4 linked regions of the Homo sapiens genome follow. The protein of the gene in region 3 interacts with the protein of the main gene of each other region in a biochemical or structural test. Each region holds a gene or a part of one and is shown on either strand. Other genes may lie near its edges.

Region 1 (4,795 bases), on a different chromosome or scaffold from region 3:
CCAGGCTGGAGTACAATGGCACGATCTCGGCTCACTGAAACCTCCACCTCCTGGGTTCAAGGGATTCTCCTGCCTCAGCCTCCTGAGTAGCTGGGATTACAGGCATGCGCCACCATGCCCTGCTAATTTTTTGTATTTTTAGTAGAGATGGGTTTCTCCATGTTGGTCAGGCTGGTCTCGAACTCCCGACCTCAGGTGATCCATCCACCTTCTCCTCCCAAAGTGCTGGGATTACAGGTGCGAACCACTGGCACTGTTGTCTTCTTATAATCTGTTCACACAGCAATAGCAGCCAGAATGACCCTTATAAAATGTAATTAGGTTATATAATCTCCTGCTTACCATCCTACAATGGTTGCCCTTCACATTTAGAAGGAAATCCATATTCCTTATTTAGAAAAAGTCCCACACAAGTTTACCTCTCTGTCCCCTGTTCCCTCTGCCCCACCCTCACCTGCTAGCCTAGGAACATAAGCCTTCTTTGTTTCCTTGAACACGCCAACATTATTTCTGCCTTAGGGTTCTTGGCATTAGCTATCCTGTCTACTGGAAGTGCTGATGTACTTTAGCCATACTGTACATGTCTAACTTCTGACCTTCAGATGGCTGTTTAAATGTCGCCTCTTCAGAGAAGTCTTCCCTGGTGATTCTATCTGAAATAACTTTTTAGTAATTCAGTTATTCAATATTATAACACCCTATTTTAACTTTATGCATAGCTGCTATCACCATCAGATATTTTTGTATATGTTTATGTTTAGGGTCTCTTTCACTAGAATGTAAGAACTAAGACTTTGATTATACTGCACACTTGAAACTCTGTCTGGCACTGAATGAGTAATCAAATGCTTAAATCAAACAAAGCAAAAAAGTTATGTGGGATCTTGAATGACAAGATATAGAAGTTGGGCTTTATTCAGAAGACAAGTGGAAGAATGCTAAGGTTTTTGAGGTAGAAAGATGCAACAGACATACTGCTTGACCTAAAAGAGTTTATAATTCACAGATAACCCAAACAGATAATCCACATTCTTAAAAGGAGAAGCTCAATACAAAGCACCATTTCATTAGTAGCAAATGACTGACATAGAACAATTGATGCTGCAGGAATGTGGCTAAGAAAGTGGGCAGGGATAGTTTGAAGGAAGTTAGAACTGCAAGACTATAGGACATACACAAGTGGAGAAGTCAGGGAGGAAACTGCCTCTCTTTTATTTTCCTTTTCTTTCCTCTTCTCCCCTCTCCCTTCCCTTCCCCTCCCCTCCCCTTCCCTTTCCTTTTCTTTTTTTCCTTTCGTTTCCTTTCCCTTCTCCTTTCCTTCTTTCTTTCTTTTTTTCTGAGATGAGGTCTTGCTATATCACCCACGCTGGTCTCAAACGCCTGGGCTCAAGTGATTCTCCTGCTTCAGCATCCCAGGTACTTGGGATTACAGGTGTAAGCCAATGCACCCAGCAGGGAATATCTTTTTTTTTTCTTTTTAGACAGGTTTCACTCTGTCACCCAGGCTAGAGTGCAGTGGCATGATCTTGGTTCACTGCAACCTCCGCCTCCTGGGTTCAAGTCATTCTCCTGCCTCAGCCTCCTGAGTAGCTGGGATTTCAGGTGCCCGCCACCATGCCCGGCTAATTTTTGTAATTTTAGTAGAGACAGGATTTTGCCATGTTGGCCAGGCTGATCTTGAACTCCTGACCTCAGGTGATCCTCCTGCCTCGGCCTCCCAAAGTGCTGGGATTATGGGCATGAGCCACCACGCCCGGCCTAGAAATATCTTGAATAGGGGAAATATTGTTGGTAAAAGTACAAAGGCAAGACATGTCTGTAATGAGCTCAGTGTACAGGGAATAGATTAGTCCAAAACTAATAGTATATACAAATGAACTTCAATGAATTTGTTATCAATATTTGGTTTTTCATAAAAACATGGTCTTTAAAGTAGAAATGCTTGCCTCAGAGGTCACAAAATGACAGTCATTCATAGAATATAAGTAAGCCCATAAAATAATGAATTAAATACACCCATAAAATCATGCCTATAAAATTATGAAATTGTTTTCTATTTTGACAAATTTGAATATTAATTGAGATCTGTTTTTTTTTTAATTTCCCACAGGGTTGCCACACCATTTGGAGGTTTTGAAAAAGCATCAAGAATGGTTAAATTTAAAGTTCCAGATTTTGAGCTACTATTGCTAACAGATCCCAGGTTTATGTCCTTTGTCAATCCCCTTTCTGGCAGACGGTCCTTTAATAGGACTCCTAAGGGATGGATATCTGAGAATATTCCTATAGTGATAACAACCGAACCTACAGATGATACCACTGTACCAGAATCAGAAGACCTATGAAAAGAAAGTTGTATGTGCCACATAAAACTCTGAATATAAAAGTTGCTGTTCTACTATTTTAACTACTGGCAAAGCCACTTGCATTTTTCATTAGTAGCAACAATAGCAATTTAGTGATTTTCCTTTTCTGACATTCAATTTCAATCTCAGATCAAATACTAATAAACAATTAGAAATCTTACTTTAAAAAACTTATAACTCACTTGTCTTCATTCATAATTTTGTTTTCACCTGGTTTAAAGAATCCAGATATTTTACTGCAAAAGTTCAGATGGAAAAGTAATTGACAGTTTCACCTTTGTCTCATTTTATATGATTTATTACAGTGTAAGTTTTTCAAGTGGAATCTAGAATCAAAATACAGGGAGAGATATGAAGACCTATTCAGAGTTTCATCTGGGGATGAAAGCTATGGAAGATGATGTACAAATGTTATTGATGGAGAAAATGGTTGGGTGTGTCCTTTCTGGTGACCATGAGAAAATAATATGTCTTGATGAAGTCTTTTCATTAGTCACTCTTAGAATTCTAAAGTGCTTTGCACTTTTCAATATGTTTTGAATCATTAGGTAATTTATTCTGGATGATATTCTCCAAAATTCAATTCAGTTATTATATTCATTTAGCATTAAGTCAAGGAGACTGAGAATGACTCAAGGGACGTCATAGTACCATAGTTTTAAGGACCAAGGTGTGCCCAGAATTCAAGTTTCACAAATCCCAATGCTGTGCATTGATTATGTTCAACTTTATGTGTGCATTCTTAGAAGAGTAAGAACAAATAAAGTACACCGTAATATACATATAAATACATTCATGTTTGTGAGAGAAGGAAAGAGTAAGTAATTTGAATTGGCAGCTTTCTTTGCTAAATCTTTAAATTCTGTTAAGATCCTCAAGTAACTGGGGAGTACATGCTTTAGGACACAAACAAAAACAAAGGGCATGAAAGTATCTGAAAGCAATGTAGCACATATCTATCGTAATATATGTAATATATTGACATAAAAGACACAAACTAATATAAAGTTATAGTTATATCTTAAAATATAATTGAAGAAGCATATGACATATAACTTATAGAAATCAGTATCAATTCCTCCCATTTCAATTCAGTTAAGACTTCTGTGATAGATGTTTATAGCAGAGAAGAAATGTCTCATCAATAGAAAACTATCAGATAAAGTTTAGGAGATAGGAAGAAGGACTGTGTGTAGTAATGAAAATACCAAGTTGCAACATTACATGTTTACAAAAAAAAATCTGTGTTTGTAGTGTGGAAGTTGGTGACTGTTTTAATCATCATCTAGACTTGTTAAGTAGAAAAATTTTAAAAATTTGCTTATGAAAATATAACCCCCAGAAAGTAACAATGACAAAGTATTATATTTATATATATTATTGTAGAGAATTTGTATATTTTTAAAGATGTCTTAAGATATCTTAATTTTATTTATAAGTTTTGGTGTTTACCTGTTTTAAAATGATAATGTTGGCATCTGTGATAAACTATCAATGAGGCTCCCATCATGCCATTTTTTGTTCATTTTAATCTTTAAAAAATAAAAATTAGGCATATTAATTATGCATTTTGATGAAATGGTTTAATTCTTTATTAACATCATGAAATGAGTCATTATTTTTAATGAAAATGAAATCTTTTTGCATTATTTCAACCATTTCCAAATATAAACTATATGATCACTGTCCCTATTCTGCCAACCACTGAAAGTAGAGGCCAGCAATTAAGTATGTTAGCTACAGAACAGTACTCCCCAGTATCATAAAAGATAATTTAAAAAGGAAAATCCTGGCCAGGTGCGGTGGCTCCGCCTGTAATCCCAGCACTTTGGGAGGCCGAGGTGGGCGGATCACGAGGTCAGGAGATTGAGACCATCCTGGCTAGCACGGTGAAACCCTGTCTCTACTAAAAATACAAAAAAATTAGCCAGGCGTGGTGGTCGAGGCCTGTAGTTCCAGCTACTCTGGAGGCTGACGCAGGAGAATGGCATGAACCCGGGAGGCGGAGCTTGCAGTGAGCTGAGATCACGCCACAGCACTCCAGCCTGGGCGACAGAGCAAGACTCCGTCTCAAAAGAAAAAAAGGAAAATCCTAAGTGATACTTATTTTTTTAAAAAGATTAGGTAGAAAAAGAAAAAATAACCCTCTGTTCACTATTTTATTTCTTTCTTTCTGGGAAGTGTCTATTAATTCTAGCTCAGCTGACACCTTTAGAAAGGCCAGCATTTCACTCTGGTTGTTACATAATTCAGAATTCAAAAGGAATTTTGAATGGGTTTTCCATTAACCTGAAAAACAGCTAAATCTTTCAAAGTCAAAAGAAATATGATAGTCTCTTTAGAACAACAGAAAGACCGCGACATTTTTTCCACCTGCTTTTGTATAAATAAGATATGGAAAAAAGGAGAAAAAATATTTTTTAAAAAGG
Region 2 (5,496 bases), on a different chromosome or scaffold from region 3:
CAGAGGTTGGGGTGGGTTGTTGACTGGTCCCAGTTCCCTGAAAATTCACTGACAAGAGGCAGATGGCTAGAAGAAAAGGTGTACTTATTTATTTAAGGTGTACATGGGGGCCTTCAGAAGGAAGGCCCAAAGATACAGGGGAAATTGCCTAGTTTTATGCTTAGGTTCAACAAAACATGGAGAGCCCTGTCGAAATAGGATTGGACCAAAAGGGTGTGATCTGATGCTGATACTGAGTGAGGAAACCCAGCGAGGCCGGTGGCTCTAGATTCTTCTTGGCCTCTCTGAGCAGCCTTTTTTTCCTTCTGGGTAAGGGGCAGGTTCTTCTGTGGAATGGGAGGTCTTAGGACTGCAATCAACAAGGTAGAACAGTTGATTTCTTTATGGCCAGTTTTTACACAGACAAGTGAGGGAAAATCACAGTGATATTTTTGTTTTATGACTGGCTTTGGGGAAAAGCGTTCTGGTTTCGATGGCTAGCCTGGGGGAGAATGGGACCGAGAGACAGGAGGGCAGAAGATGACACAGAGACTGCTTCTGAGGCCTTCATTTTGGCGTATTGTTTTCTGAGCTCCAACATTGGCAAAAGGGGTTCCAAGCCGAGATGACCTAAGAGTACAGGCCTGAGGAGTGAGTGGTGTCCCCGCCATACTGAGGTTCTGAGTCTGGGCCCAGGACATGGTTGCACCGAAAGGCAGGGCAGGAAAGGGGAGCTGGGTTGGAGGGGGACAGACTGAGTCTGGGGTCCAGCGGGCAGTTGAAACTGCTGGTGAGGACATGAGGCCAGTTTGAATCCAAGCAGCCTGGCTTCAAACTCCTTGTTCCGGAGGAGGAACCGCAAGTCCTCCCAAGGCCTTGGAGAAAAGTGAGCTAAAGGCAGAACGTGGGCCGATAACGTGGGGGCGTGGGGGGACCGCGACCCAGCCCGGGGAAGGCGTCCCAGCATGGACCCAGCAGCCTGGGCAGCCTGGGCGGGAAGTTCTGATCGCGCTCTGCCGAATTGGCAGGCGCAATAAGTAAGCGGAAAAACCAGGATTCAAACCAACCACCAACACCCTTCCCTGGCGTTCAGACCGAAGGTGGGTGGGAAGGCCCTGGCGAAGGAGGTCTGCATCAGGCCTGGCCTTGAGGCGATCCCTTCTCACCCCAAACCTCCTGGACGCTGAGCAAGCCCCTTCGCCTGTGTGGGTTGCCCGGCTGCCCTCTGGGGAAAGTTGGGTGATCAAATCCCAAGTTGTAGCTCTCGATGGGTCGAGGGCGATGGCCAGCGCTGTGCTGGGAACGGGCAGCCCTGCCCTGCCCTGCCCTGCCCTGCCCTGCCCTGCCCTGCCCTGCCCCACATGGGCGCAGGAGGCCTCCGCACGCGCAAGGGCCAAGGGCTGGAGGGGGCTCTCCCGGGCACAGGCACCGGACCCGGGGCGCGCGCGCGCGTCCTTAGTCCCCGGGCTGCACTCCGGGCCGCTGAGAGATCGGGTCCCAGAAGTTCCGGGAGTGGTCGGGTGACCCTGGAACTTTCTTCTTCTGGAGCCCGACCTGGGGCTGACTGCAGAGCAGGCTGCTGGCAGGGACCAAAAGGAGCTCCGCGCCAGGCCGGAGGCTGCGCCCGTCACTCGCGGTCCCGGCCGGGTCCCTGGCGCGTAGTCAGGCCGCACCGCCCGAGCCCCACCGCGCGCCCACCCCGGCCGGGTGCGTCCGGCTCGCGGCCGTCCCTCCCGCGACCTGTGGCCCGGGGCTGCTGCGGGCGCCCGGGGAAGAGAGGCGGGGGCCGCGGGGGGCAGGAGGAGCGGCTGCGGCCGGCACAGCGCCAGGGCGAGTGAGGCGGGTGGCGCGGGGGAGGCGGCGGAGTAAAGAGAGGCCGCCGGCTGGGTCCGCGGGTCACTCCGAGGCGCGGGCTGCGGGCGGCGGGCGGCGGGCGCACCATGCCCTCCTTCGACGAGGCGCTGCAGCGGGTGGGCGAGTTCGGGCGCTTCCAGAGGCGCGTGTTTTTGCTGCTGTGCCTGACGGGCGTCACCTTCGCCTTCCTCTTCGTCGGCGTGGTCTTCCTGGGCACGCAGCCCGACCACTACTGGTGCCGCGGGCCAAGTGCCGCGGCGCTGGCCGAGCGCTGCGGCTGGAGCCCGGAGGAGGAGTGGAACCGCACGGCGCCCGCCTCCCGCGGCCCAGAGCCCCCCGAGCGCCGCGGCCGCTGCCAGCGCTACCTCCTGGAGGCGGCCAACGACAGCGCCTCCGCCACTAGCGCTCTCAGCTGCGCGGACCCACTCGCCGCCTTCCCCAACCGCTCGGCTCCCCTTGTGCCGTGCCGCGGCGGCTGGCGCTACGCCCAGGCCCACTCCACCATCGTCAGCGAGGTAAGGGCGCCCCGGCCCTTTGGAAGCCGGCGGGAGAGGACGATGCTGGCTCCCAGGCGGACAAGCCGCGTGTGAGACGCTGGCCGCCAGGGGAGGTCGGTGGAGACGGGGACCGGTCGGCTACCTCTGGGGACAGACAGGATTCAGCGCACCCTTGGAAGTGCCGCGTCGTAAATGCTGGGAAAAGCCTTTCGTTATCTGCCTGAGCCCGTGAGTTAATGCACAGATACTTTGGTTTCGGGTGTGAACAAAAACTTTCTTCGAAGCCGAGTTGTAAACGCCTGGCGCACGCCTGCTCAGGAGTCAAAGACCCAGCACCGCGTTCCTTATCTTTGAGGTGTGCGGGCGCCGTCATTGGAAATTATGGTTAGGTGCGCGATAGGGAACTTCAGTCTCTGGGGTGAGCGACGTTGGCAGTTCCGGATTCGCTTATGGTCTCCAGGGTCAAAGGAAAGGGCGAACCAACGTTTGAAGGCAGCAGCAGCTTTTTTCCAGTTGCCCAAATGGTTACTCAAAATGCAAGGGGACAAAGGTCGAGGCTTTCCCGGGGAATGGTTTTGGTAAAATTGCTTTGGGGCAAAGAGCAACATCTGGGATAAGTTGGGAAAACTGAAGTATTGGATAAATTTTAGTTTTTTTTTCTGGTAATAAATTTTAGGAACATAGCGGGAGGGCCACAGCCTTCCAACGCAAATCCCCAACCCATTTACAGGCGGAGGCTGCTGCCGGCGGGTGGGCGGGGGCGATCCCCACATTTTGGGCAGTCAGTGCATTTGGAAGTTAGGGGAGCTTCCTTCACCCTTGCCCTCAGTAATCTGTTTCTGCATCCTTGCTGAAATGGAAGATTGCCTCTCTGTGAGGTCCAGATATAGAGCAGAGTCACTTTGTAATAATCGGAACTCAGAAACGGCCTCAATTGAGCATGGGTTGCAGAGATGAGCAGTTTTACTGAGCTTTGTCTACAATCACAGCTTAAGTTAATTTTAAAAAAAGATTGAATGTGATCAGGTACATTAGGAAAAAAGGTTTGTCTTTTTTTTGTGATAAACTTTAAAAAATCACCTACTTGAAGAGTGGGGAAAACACTGGATGAGGAGGTAGGAGCGCCCTTTCTGCCGCTGTTGCTGTTGGTCTGGTGAGCTTATCTCGCTGCAGTTGGGAGTGTCGGTGGTTGCAATTGTACATGTTTTATACGCCATGTGCTGGTGTGTTCGCACAGTGGATGGCTCTATGCTATGTGCTCCAGGGATAAAACCCATGGCAGGACAGCCAGGCGATGTGTGTATGTGTTTGGGATCTTTCTGTAACGCCGTGTGCTGCTGTGTTCGCACAGTGGATGGCTCTATGCTAAGTGCTCCAGGGATAAAACCCCCTGGCAGGACAGCCAGGCAATGTGTATGTGTGTTCAGGGTGTTTCTATAATGCCACATGCAAGTGTGTTCGCACACTGAGTGGCTCTATGCTGAGTGATCTCAGGATAAACCCCCCTGGCAAGACAGCCAGGCAATACATATGTGTGTTGGGATCTTTAATTTCTACTTAATCCATGGTAAGGCTGGGGACTGCTTTATAATTGGTGATGGTCTGGTTAGAGATTTCACAGTTGAAAGGACAGGGCATGGACTTGGATGAGAGAGGGCATTATCTCTGTGAGTCGCATCTGTTAGGTGGCTTCTTCCACTCCACTCAGCAGCGCTGCCTAATGCTTACTTCCCAAGTGAACCAGAGGACCCACATGGAGGGCAGACAGCTGATTTTTGGAGACATTTAAAGATGAAGAATAAAACGAGCCTCAACAAGTGCTCAAGCGAGGTTTGCATGAGTGAGTATGATCCATGGACATCAAAGAAGACAGACATAAAAATCTGTAATTTAATGCTCTGACGGATACTTTGGAAGCATTCTGGAGTTGCAGGGTTACTAGCATCCCGGGGTTACAATAAGGTGATTTTATGAAGATCAGTGGCTACTAAAATGCAGTGTGGAATGATGGAGGGTCAGGGGCTGGCTCGGTCTCCAGCTGGCTGTGTGGCTTGGGTGAGTTACTCGCCTTCTCTGGGCTTGTATTTTTCCTCTGTAAAATTAGCCATTGGATTCAGCCCGTTACAATGCTCCAAATGCCATCAGGGTCACCACCTGGTTACTGTTTGGTGTGCCCAGAACAATGATTAAAAAGTCTTTAAGAAAGTAGAATGATATTAGGAATGTACCCCGTAAAGCCCCAAAAAAGTTTTTGAAATATATTGGAGAGATTCTTTTTTGTTTTGTTTTGTTTTGTTTTCTTTGAGACGGAGTCTCTCTCTGTCGCCCAGGCTGGTGTGCAGTGGCGTGATCTCGGCTTACTGCAAGCTCCGCCTCCCAGGTTCCTGCCATTCTCCTGCCTCAGCCTCCCGAATAGCTGGGACTACAGGCGACTGCCACCATGCCCGGCTAATTTTTTGTATTTTTAGTAGAGGCGGGGTTTCACTGTGTTAGCCAGGATGGTCTCGATCTCCTGACCTCGTGATCCGCCCGCCTTGGCTTCCCAAAGTGCTGGGATTACAGGTGTGAGCCACCGCGCCCAGCCTCTTTTTAAATTCCAAATAGTTTTGTGCTTCTTTTGGTTTGTTTTTCATGTTTGGTTTCTTAAGAGGAAAACCCCCATCTATTCATAAAGTTCAACTATCCAAAACAAGTCAGCAACTCTCTGAATTCTGCATAGCTAATATTTTGCTGTCTTTGGTTCAACTAATTTTTTTCTTTCAAATTCTGTCTGATGAAAGGAACTGTAGTTCCATCTTCAGCTAACATTATGTATCCAGTGTATTTTTATAAACTTGAAGCCTAAGATACAAATCATGCAAAGGGGTGAATTGGGAGAGTTTACAAAGTGGGCGGGATGACCAGACTCCAGAATGCCTCCATATAGCTATAATACTTCATCCTTGCACCATGGTGGGAGGGGTATCATTGTCCTGGCTTCATAGAAGAGAGACCTGAGGACCTTCCAGGGTCCCACGCCATTTATGTAGCCAAACTGGATTCAAATCCGGGGGCCTTGATTGTAAGTCAGTCCACTTTCCTCCATAAAGTGCTCAAAATCCTTCAAGCAAGTCCATGAAACATAGTACTCAGATCTCTCACACTTTATAACCTGCAGAAACCTCGT
Region 3 (4,072 bases):
GTCCTGCCCAGCGACGGCTTCCAGGTGGACTTGGAAGCCAACTGCCTGGACGACAGCATCTACCAGCACCTGCTCTACGTCCGCCACTTTCTGTGGGGTCTGCGGAGCAGAGCCAGCCCCGGCAGCCCTGGCAGGCCTGGCAGTGGGGCCTCCCAGCCAGTGTGCCCCGAGGTACCCGGGGAGGGGGCCCCCCAGCCAGCGTGCCCCGAGGTGCCCGGGGAGGGGACCCAGCCAGCGTGCCCCGAGGTGCCCGGGGAGGGGGCCACCCAGCCAGCGTGCCCCGAGGTGCCCGGGGAGGGGGCCCAGCCAGTGTGCCCCGAGGTGCCCGGGGAGGGGGCCACCCAGCCAGCGTGCCCCGAGGTGCCCGGGGAGGGGACCCAGCCAGCGTGCCCTGAGGTGCCCGGGGAGGGGGCCACCCAGCCAGCGTGCCCCGAGGTGCCCGGGGAGGGGGCCCCCCAGCCAGCGTGCCCTGAGGTGCCCGGGGAGGGGGCCCAGCCAGTGTGCCCCGAGGTACCCGGGGAGGGGGCCCCCCAGCCAGCGTGCCCCGAGGTGCCCGGGGAGGGGACCCAGCCAGAGTGCCCCGAGGTACCCGGGGAGGGGGCCCCCCAGCCAGCGTGCCCCGAGGTGCCCGGGGAGGGGACCCAGCCAGCGTGCCCCGAGGTACCCGGGGAGGGGGCCCCCCAGCCAGCGTGCCCTGAGGTGCCCGGGGAGGGGGCCCAGCCAGAGTGCCCCGAGGTACCCGGGGAGGGGGCCCCCCAGCCAGCGTGCCCCGAGGTGCCCGGGGAGGGGACCCAGCCAGCATTCCCCGAGGTGCCCGGGGAGGGGGCCCCCCAGCCAGAGTGCCCCGAGGTGCCCGGGGAGGGGGTCCAGCCAGCATTCCCCGAGGTGCCCGGGGAGGGGGTCCAGCCAGCATGACCCGAGGTGTCTGGGGAGGGGGCCCCCCAGCCAGCGTGCCCCGAGGTGCCCGGGGAGGGGGCCCAGCCAGCGTGCCCCGAGGTGCCTGGGGAGGGGACCCAGCCAGCGTGCCCCGAGGTACCCGGGGAGGGGGCCCCCCAGCCAGAGTGCCCCGAGGTGCCCGGGGAGGGGGTCCAGCCAGCATGCCCCGAGGTACCCGGGGAGGGGGCCCCCCAGCTAGAGTGCCCCGAGGTGCCCGGGGAGGGGGTCCAGCCAGCATTCCCTGAGGTGCCCAGAGAGGGGGTCCATCCAGCATGCCCCGAGGTACCTGGGGAGGGGGCCCCCCAGCCAGCGTGCCCCGAGGTGCCCGGGGAGGGGGCCCAGCCAGCGTGCCCCGAGGTGCCCGGGGAGGGGGCCCAGCCAGCGTGCCCCGAGGTACCCGGGGAGGGGGCCCCCCAGCCAGCGTGCCCCGAGGTACCCGGGGAGGGGGCCCAGCCAGCATGCCCCGAGGTACCTGGGGAGGGGGCCCCCCAGCCAGCGTGCCCCGAGGTGCCCGGGAGGACAGGAGAAGGGTTGGAAGCTGGGCTGGGGGCAGCAGGCGGGAGCTCTGGGAACCCCGGGAGTCCTGGCCCAGCGCAGGCTGTGCTCCGGATGGCGGGGAAGCCCCTTTGCCTCTTGCGCGTCTCAAGCTGCACAGGCTGCGGGAGTCCTTTGCTGACCTCTGCCCCGCGGCCTGGCGGCCCTTCTGCTGCAGGCTGCCCAGTTGCCCGAGTGCTGTGTCCACCTGGCCACTCCTCTACCTGAGCTGTCACCCTTCCTCTCCCTAGGGTATGCACCACGTGGTCCTTGACGGGCACCTGGAGGCCCCGAGCTGCCCCCTGGCTCCCAGGGACCCTGGCCCAGCAGCCCGGGAAGTGGCCCCGGAGCGTACTCTTCCCTTGAGGGGGGCTCCCTGGGCACAGGCCCCCCCTGGAAGGCAACCCAGCCGTGGGGGCTCCCAGGCTGGCCCCCCGCACACGGACTCGTCCTGCTTGCTCACGCCTCCCAGCACTCCACTTGGCCCTGAGCCTGGGGACCCCGACTGGCCAGAGTCCGGCGGCCCCTGTGGAAAAGCGCTCCCAGAGAGGCAGAGGAACGGACTCAGCGGCCTCCGGGGTGCAGCTCCGGAAGGTGAGCCCTGCCTGGTGCTCAGGCGGGAACCCACCCCAGACCCCGCACAGCACCCTGATGGCCGGTCCCCTGGGATCGTTCCCCCCTTGGGTCCTAGGTTTCCTTACCTGCCCCACAGACACCTGCAACCTGAGACGGGGCCAGATGGAGAGGGCTCAGGGCTGCTCAGCCCCCAGCAGCTGGGCCACACGGTCGCTCAGTCGCTGACACGTCTTGGGCAGATACTCACTGTGATCTGGGAGGGAGAGAGTCTAGAAAGTGGCTCAGAGTCACTCCTGCACTGGGCAGAGGAAGGGATGGCTGAGCCAGTGGAGAGGATGTGCTGAGGGGGAACCCAGGGGTCTTCAGGGAGAAGGTGGAGCTGGAGTCCTCCAGGGCAGGGCCTGTGTGTGCCTGTGTGCTTGTGCGTGTGGATATGTGTGCTCACAGGTGCATGGGTGTGCTGGTGCGTGTGTGCATGGGTGTGTGCATCTGCATGGGTGTGTCTGCATGGTGTGCATTGTGTGTGCATCTCTGCATGGGTGTGTCTGCATGGTGTGCATTGTGTGTGCATCTGTGCATGGGTGTAAGTGCACGTGTGCATGGGCATGCTTGCACATGTGTGCATGGCTGTGAGTATATGTGTGCATGAGTGTGTGTGCGCAGCTGGCCTAGGCTGGGGAGGGCATTGAGGGTGAGGCAGCCCCAGCCGGCCCTGGCCTCCTGTGAGGGGCTTGGGTGTGCCTTGCAGGAGCGAAGTGTCCTGGGTGCGTGTGCAGAGTCAGAGTGTCCCCTGTGGCTTGGGGCCACCTGGCCAAGCTGGGTCCCAGGCAGGCCACTTGCTCAGGTGCACAGCTCATCTCTGACCTAAGTGCACCCACGGCAGGATCACCATTATGGAGAGGGCACCAGCTGGTGGCCCTCAGGGCAGGTGCTTGGGCTGGGCTGGGCTAGGGCCTGGGGCCCCGGTCTGGTCAGCGGTGGGAACCCTCAGGGTGCACATGGCCACATCTGGGTGTGGAGGGAGGAGGAGGAGGAGCAGAGATTGCTGAGGAGGTGGCACAGAACCGCGTGGGTCCCTGGAGCTGGAAAACAGCCGCCCCCAGAGGGGCGAGTGTCCTGGGACTGCCAGGGGCGGGGACTGAGGTGCTCCCTCAGGGAACATGGGGGTGTCGCCCATGGGCGGACCCCGACCCTAATGTCTGGGTTGCCGGTCACATTCTGCCTGAACAGCGTCTCCTGGGAGCCACAGGAGGCCATCCCATCCCTGACGCCCTACAGAGGCAGCCAGGCCAGGACATCCCATTCCTCGTCGTGATTCCTGGCGCCTCACTCCCACCCACCTTTCCTGGCCCCCACCCAGGAGACTCTGCAGCCCTTGCGGAGGAGTCCCCTCCAGCCCCGTCCAGCCGCAGCTCCAGCACCGAGGACTTCTGCTACGTCTTCACGGTGGAGCTGGAACGAGGCCCCTCCGGGCTGGGGATGGGCCTGATCGACGGGATGGTGAGTGGCCCAGGACCCTCGCCGCACCCCCATACTGGCTGCCTGGCCCCGCCTGTTCATGCAAGCCTGGCCGCAGCTTGCGTGGCCACGTGGCTACAGGAAGGCCTTCGGGGAGGAGAGTGGGGTTGGCCTCTGCAGCTGGGAGGGGAACCCAGCCTGTCCAACGGCCACGCCCCCTGGGCCTGCTGTCTCTTGCCTCTGTCCTCAAGCCTTTGGGGTCTGTCCTGGGCCTGTGGGGACGGTGGTGTCCACTGCTTTTCTGGAGGGACGCGTGAAACCATGAGTGGGCCTGGCTGGATGCCAGGCGGGGGCCTGTAGGTGCCAAGGGAGGGGCTGCAGTGGTCCTCGCTGGGGACAGCCAGTCGGGCCTGCGGAGCTCTGAGGCCTCTGCTTGTCCCCAGCACACGCACCTGGGCGCCCCCGGGCTCTACATCCAGACCCTGCTCCCGGGCAGCCCCGCAGCGGCCGACGGGCGCCTGTCGCTGGGGGACCGTATCCTGGAGGTGAATGGCAGCAGCCTCCTGGG
Region 4 (4,795 bases), about 140 Mb from region 3:
TTGGTCTGTGCACTGGAGGGGTTGGTTGCCATAGTGACATGTTCTTCCGGTGAAGCTGGAAACAGAGACAGGGAAAGGGATAGGGGAAGAATGTACAACATTTTGATTTTGTATCGACTGATTTTTAATTGCAGCAACAGAAAATGGACATGGCACAGCAGGGGTATTGAATACACTGATACCTAGAGTTGGCAGGGCATTGTATTTCACTTGAACTAATGGAAATGGTGTTCCCCATCGCCCAAAATACAGCAATCACTGTCAGCGGCAAGCACCCGCTTACCATGGCTGTTTCTGTCCATTTGACATTCTTGTTAGGTATTATTGAGATAGATGACATGCCAGCCTTACAAATCTTGAGAGAGTTAAGGTCACTATCTTCATTTTTAACCTCAACACACACTCTTTGAAAACCAGATCTTCCTTTTCTGAGCAGCAATAGACACATTTTGGAAATAAGTGCATGTTATATTAGTAGAATTCACAAGCAATTCCAATAACATATAGAACACAATTTTTACACTTAGTGTTCCTCTTAGATGGGCAGATTTTATAAGGAAGTTAAAAAGAGAAACTGATATCCCTATATTTAAATGAGACATTTTAGAAAAAGATGTTTATCTCACATTATTCATTAGAAACCGCAAAAGAGATCTCAGACCTCTGTCTTCTTTGAAATATCTACTTTGATTAAAATTCTGGAAGATATGTAATGGGCAAGGGAAAAAGAAAACCAGAGAAAAGACTTTAAAATCCGTTAATATATAGGAAAATTAGAGACTTATCTAAATGATCTAAAGAACTTAGTTATTTGTTAAATCGATGTTCATTACATTAGAAAGTGCTATTTGTGCATTTCAACATAAAACCACATAATTAATAAGAAAACGAACATCAAATCTATGTCTGATTTGAAGGTAAAGTCCTCTGGATTCATATTCATTCTGAAATCCATTCCCCTCCAGGACCTTCTGCCATGCTGTACCCACACGTATGCATTTCTCATCACTGTGTATTCATTTGTTTGCATTATTAAACTGTAAGTTCCTAGAGGTCAGGAAAGACCATCATTTGTTAAATACATTCACCAGATGCTTGGTATTTGGGAAATATTTCATACAAATTAGGTTCACAGAAATGTATCCATCCAAGCTTATTCTAATTATAGAAACACTTGTGTGAGAATTTAAGTAAAAAATTAGAAAATCGTGATGGGAAAATATGAAACAGTGTGGCTGTCAGGCCAGGTCAATATTGCAACAAATGCTACATAATCTATGAAGGGACGATTTCTTGAGCTTTGCCAAAGAATAAGGAAAACAGACAATTCTGTTTTGGATAACATGTCACTAAGCAGACACATATCACTTGTGGACATTATTTTTTATGATGGATAAGGTTTTAATTATTTCCTTCTTGGGGGTAAGATTGGATATAGGGTACAGCAAGGGTAGATTACCCTGAATTCCCATTTGTTGGCATCCATGACAAGTCTTAAATCAGGTCCTTTTGTCTTCTTGCTTTTAAATCTCATCCATGTCTCCCTAGTAAGTGACTGCAGGCACTGGGGACAGATCAGTGACAAGATCAGTTTCTGAAATCCAAGAGACTTCCAGACCCTTAGGAGGAGGAGTTATAGGTAGGATTTTGTTCTAGGGAACTCTAAGGGGAAAATTATATTATTTGGTTTGTACTAAAATATTATATTGATATAGTTTGAAATAAGTAGAACTTCAACTGATACTCTAAGAACTTTTTATTATTTGAAAATTGGCCTTATAATAGACTTTGACTTAAAGAGTTCCCATAATCACAGAGTGGTTGTCAATACTCCAAAAGTAATTTTAAGAAAACATTCACATATTTAAAAATTAATAATGGGATCAGCAAATATTTACTACACATGTATTGTGTTATGGGCACACATCGCTAGGATGAAGAAATGCATAAGATCTGGTCCTCAGAATTTGCATAGTCTGTTAGTGTCAGAGAAAATAGGTTACAACTACAGGATGATGAGAGCAGCAACAGAAACAGATGCAGAGGAACACAGAGAAAGTGATGGTGGATTGTGTCGGCAGTAGCGGGAGGTAGGCAGGAGGAGGTTAGGGAAAGTTGTCCTGAGGAAATGAAATCTGAACAAGATGTTTGATAAGGTTTGGAGGTGGATGTGGAGGAAGGATATTTCAGGCAATGGGCCAGCATATGCACAGCCATAGAGGTGTGGAACAGCAGTTTGGCCTTGTGAGTGTTGATTTCTGGGGCAAGGAGAAGGAGCAGACCAGGAGCTGGAGAGCAGCCATGGACCAAGTCAGGGAGCTCGTATATCAAATCCCCTACAGCTATGCTGCCCAGTTGGGGAGCCACAACCCACATGTGGCTGTTCAAGTTAACAATAACCAAAGTTAAATAAAATAGGCTGGGCACAGTGGTTCACGCCTGTAATCCCAGCACTTTGGGAGGCCGAGGCAGGTGAATCACTTGAGTTCAGGAGTTCGAGACCAGCCTCGCCAACATGGTGAAAACCCATCTCTAGTAAAAATACAAAAATTAGCTGGGCATGGTGGTGTGTGTCTGTAATGCCAGCTACTCAGGAGGCTGAGGCAGGAGAATCGCTTGAACCTAGGAGGTAGAGGTTGCGGTGATCTGGTATCATGCCGTTGCACTCCAGCCTGGGTGACAGAGCGAGACTCTGTCTCAAAAAACAAACAAACAAAAATTATTTCCGTAGTTGTATTGGCCACATTTCAAATGTTCAGTAGCCGTATGTGCCTACTGGCTATTGTATGGGACAGTGCAGATTACAGTGAACATTCCCACCATCGGAGAAAATTCTGTTGGACAGCGCCACGCAGAGCCTATAGCCTCTAAAAGAACCAAGCACATAACTTTGTTTCAGATGAGTATAATTCCATGATAACTTGGGTTTAAATTTAAGTATATCATTCTACACTTTAAGAAACTGCTACTTGAATATATTGGGCAGAAGGCTTTAGTTCATGGTCAATTATAGTAAATTTATATTTTAATTTTCTATCATCAACTCACAGAATTCTCACAAGCTTCTCCCTTCTTCCCTCCTGCCCTCTCCATCTCCATTAAACATCACTTGCAAAGTTGGTGGGGTGGGAAAGAGATTAATGATAATTATAGCCAATCTTGATGACAGGTCTCTCCTAAAAGTTTTATATGTATTAGCTAATTTATTGTTCATAATAACCCTAGGAAGTATAAGTATTATTTTAAATTCTCATCCTAAATTTGAGGGAACTGAGGCACAGAAAGGTCAGATAACTTGTGAATTCTCACAGTTAGTTAGGAAACAAAGGTGTCAGAATTTGAATTCTGGCTCTGGATGTGGGAACTCACCCACCACACTCTACCATCATCTTAGAATCTATCGGGGCAGGAGTGAGGTGGAGAAGAAACTGGGATATTGATTCCACAAATTGAGAATAAAAAGGAAATAATACTCTTGGAATCTCAATTCTAAATTGAAGTAATGAGAGTGGCTCACACACCCTGTTTTGAAGCTCACTGACCAAAGTGCATACACATTTTGTCATATAACTTTTGCTTATTTACTTCGCTTGCTGTGGTAGATGCTGAAATTATAGACATGAAGGACACATTCATTCATTCAACAAGTATTTATTGAGGGCCTTTGGGCTGTGCATCAGGTACAGTGTTGGACCAAATGGAGAAGCTTACATTCCAGAGGGGAGAGACGGACAATAAATAAATACTCCACGGCTGGGCACGGTGGCGCACGCCTGTAATCCCAGAATTTTGGGAGGCTGAGGAGGGCGGATTACGAGGTCAAGAGATTGAGACCATCCTGGCCAACATGGTTGAAACCCTGTGTCTACAGAAAATACAAAAATTAGCTGGGTGTGGTGGCGCATGCCTGTAATCCCAGCTACTCGAGAGGCTGAGGCAGGAGAATGGCTTGAATCCAGGAAGCGGAGGTTGCAGTGAGCCGAGATCGTGCTACTGCACCCCAGCCTGGGTGATAGAGCGAGACTCCATCTGAAGAAAAATAGTCATAGAGTAAAAATAATATCTAATATATGAATCGTGTAATATAGCACAGGGTAATGGGCACCATGAAGGTCTGCCCTTACGAAGCGCAAAGGGGAAGAATGACAAGTAAGGCAAAAATGAAATGCAGTCATGTGCCCTGTAACATTTTGGTTAAAGACAGACTGCAGTGGTCTCATAAGGTTATCATGGAGCTGAAAAATTCTTATGGCCTAGTGACATCATAGATGTCACAGTGCAGCAACCCATTACTCCTGTGTTTGGGTTGAGGCTGGTGTAAACAAAGCTACTGCACTGCCGGCGGTATAGAAGTCTAGCACAAACAATTATGTACAGTATGTAATACTTGATAATAAAATGACTGTTACTGGTTTATATATTTACTATGCTATACTTCTAATCATTGTTTTAGAGTGTACTCCTTCTGCTTATAAAAAAAAGTTAACTGTAAAACAGCCCCAGGTGGGTCCTTCAGGAGGTATTCCAGAAGAAGGCATTGTTATCAGGAGGTGACAGCTCCATGTGCACCATTGCCCCTGAAGACTTTCCAGTGGGCTAAAATGTGGAGGTGGAAGACAGCGAGATTGATGATCCCAACCCTCTGCAGGCTTAGGCTAATGTGTGTGTGTGTGTGTCTTAGTTTTTAACAAAAACGTTTCAAAAGTTGAAAAATAAAAAATTTTATAAACAGAAAAAAGCTTATAGGATAAGGATATAAAGAAAGAGCCTGGGTGCAGTGGCTCACACCTGTAAT

The links. Proteins that work in one complex are often made in the same cells at the same time.
Region 1: the proteins of RADIL (region 3) and MYOZ2 interact in a test that uses a peptide from one of them, tested with the Homo sapiens proteins (one large-scale study listed by IntAct).
Region 2: the proteins of RADIL (region 3) and SLC22A3 interact in a test that uses a peptide from one of them, tested with the Homo sapiens proteins (one large-scale study listed by IntAct).
Region 4: the proteins of RADIL (region 3) and TMEM178B interact in a test that uses a peptide from one of them, tested with the Homo sapiens proteins (one large-scale study listed by IntAct).

What each region holds. Positions count from the first base shown.
Region 1 is NC_000004.12:119,183,856-119,188,650, forward strand, and holds the end of MYOZ2 (myozenin-2), read left to right. Parts: intron 1-2,110; coding exon 2,111-2,345; 3' UTR 2,346-3,934; downstream 3,935-4,795.
Region 2 is NC_000006.12:160,346,501-160,351,996, forward strand, and holds the start of SLC22A3 (solute carrier family 22 member 3), read left to right. Parts: upstream 1-1,877; 5' UTR 1,878-1,919; coding exon 1,920-2,348; exon of another isoform or gene 2,349-2,522; coding exon of another isoform or gene 2,523-2,558; intron 2,559-2,579; exon of another isoform or gene 2,580-2,685; intron 2,686-3,157; exon of another isoform or gene 3,158-4,170; intron 4,171-5,496.
Region 3 is NC_000007.14:4,799,645-4,803,716, reverse strand, and holds part of RADIL (ras-associating and dilute domain-containing protein), read left to right. Parts: coding exon 1-171; intron 172-1,721; coding exon 1,722-2,064; intron 2,065-3,406; coding exon 3,407-3,546; intron 3,547-3,947; coding exon 3,948-4,072. UniProt on the Homo sapiens protein: Downstream effector of Rap required for cell adhesion and migration of neural crest precursors during development.
Region 4 is NC_000007.14:141,076,588-141,081,382, forward strand, and holds part of TMEM178B (transmembrane protein 178B precursor), read left to right. Parts: intron 1-4,795.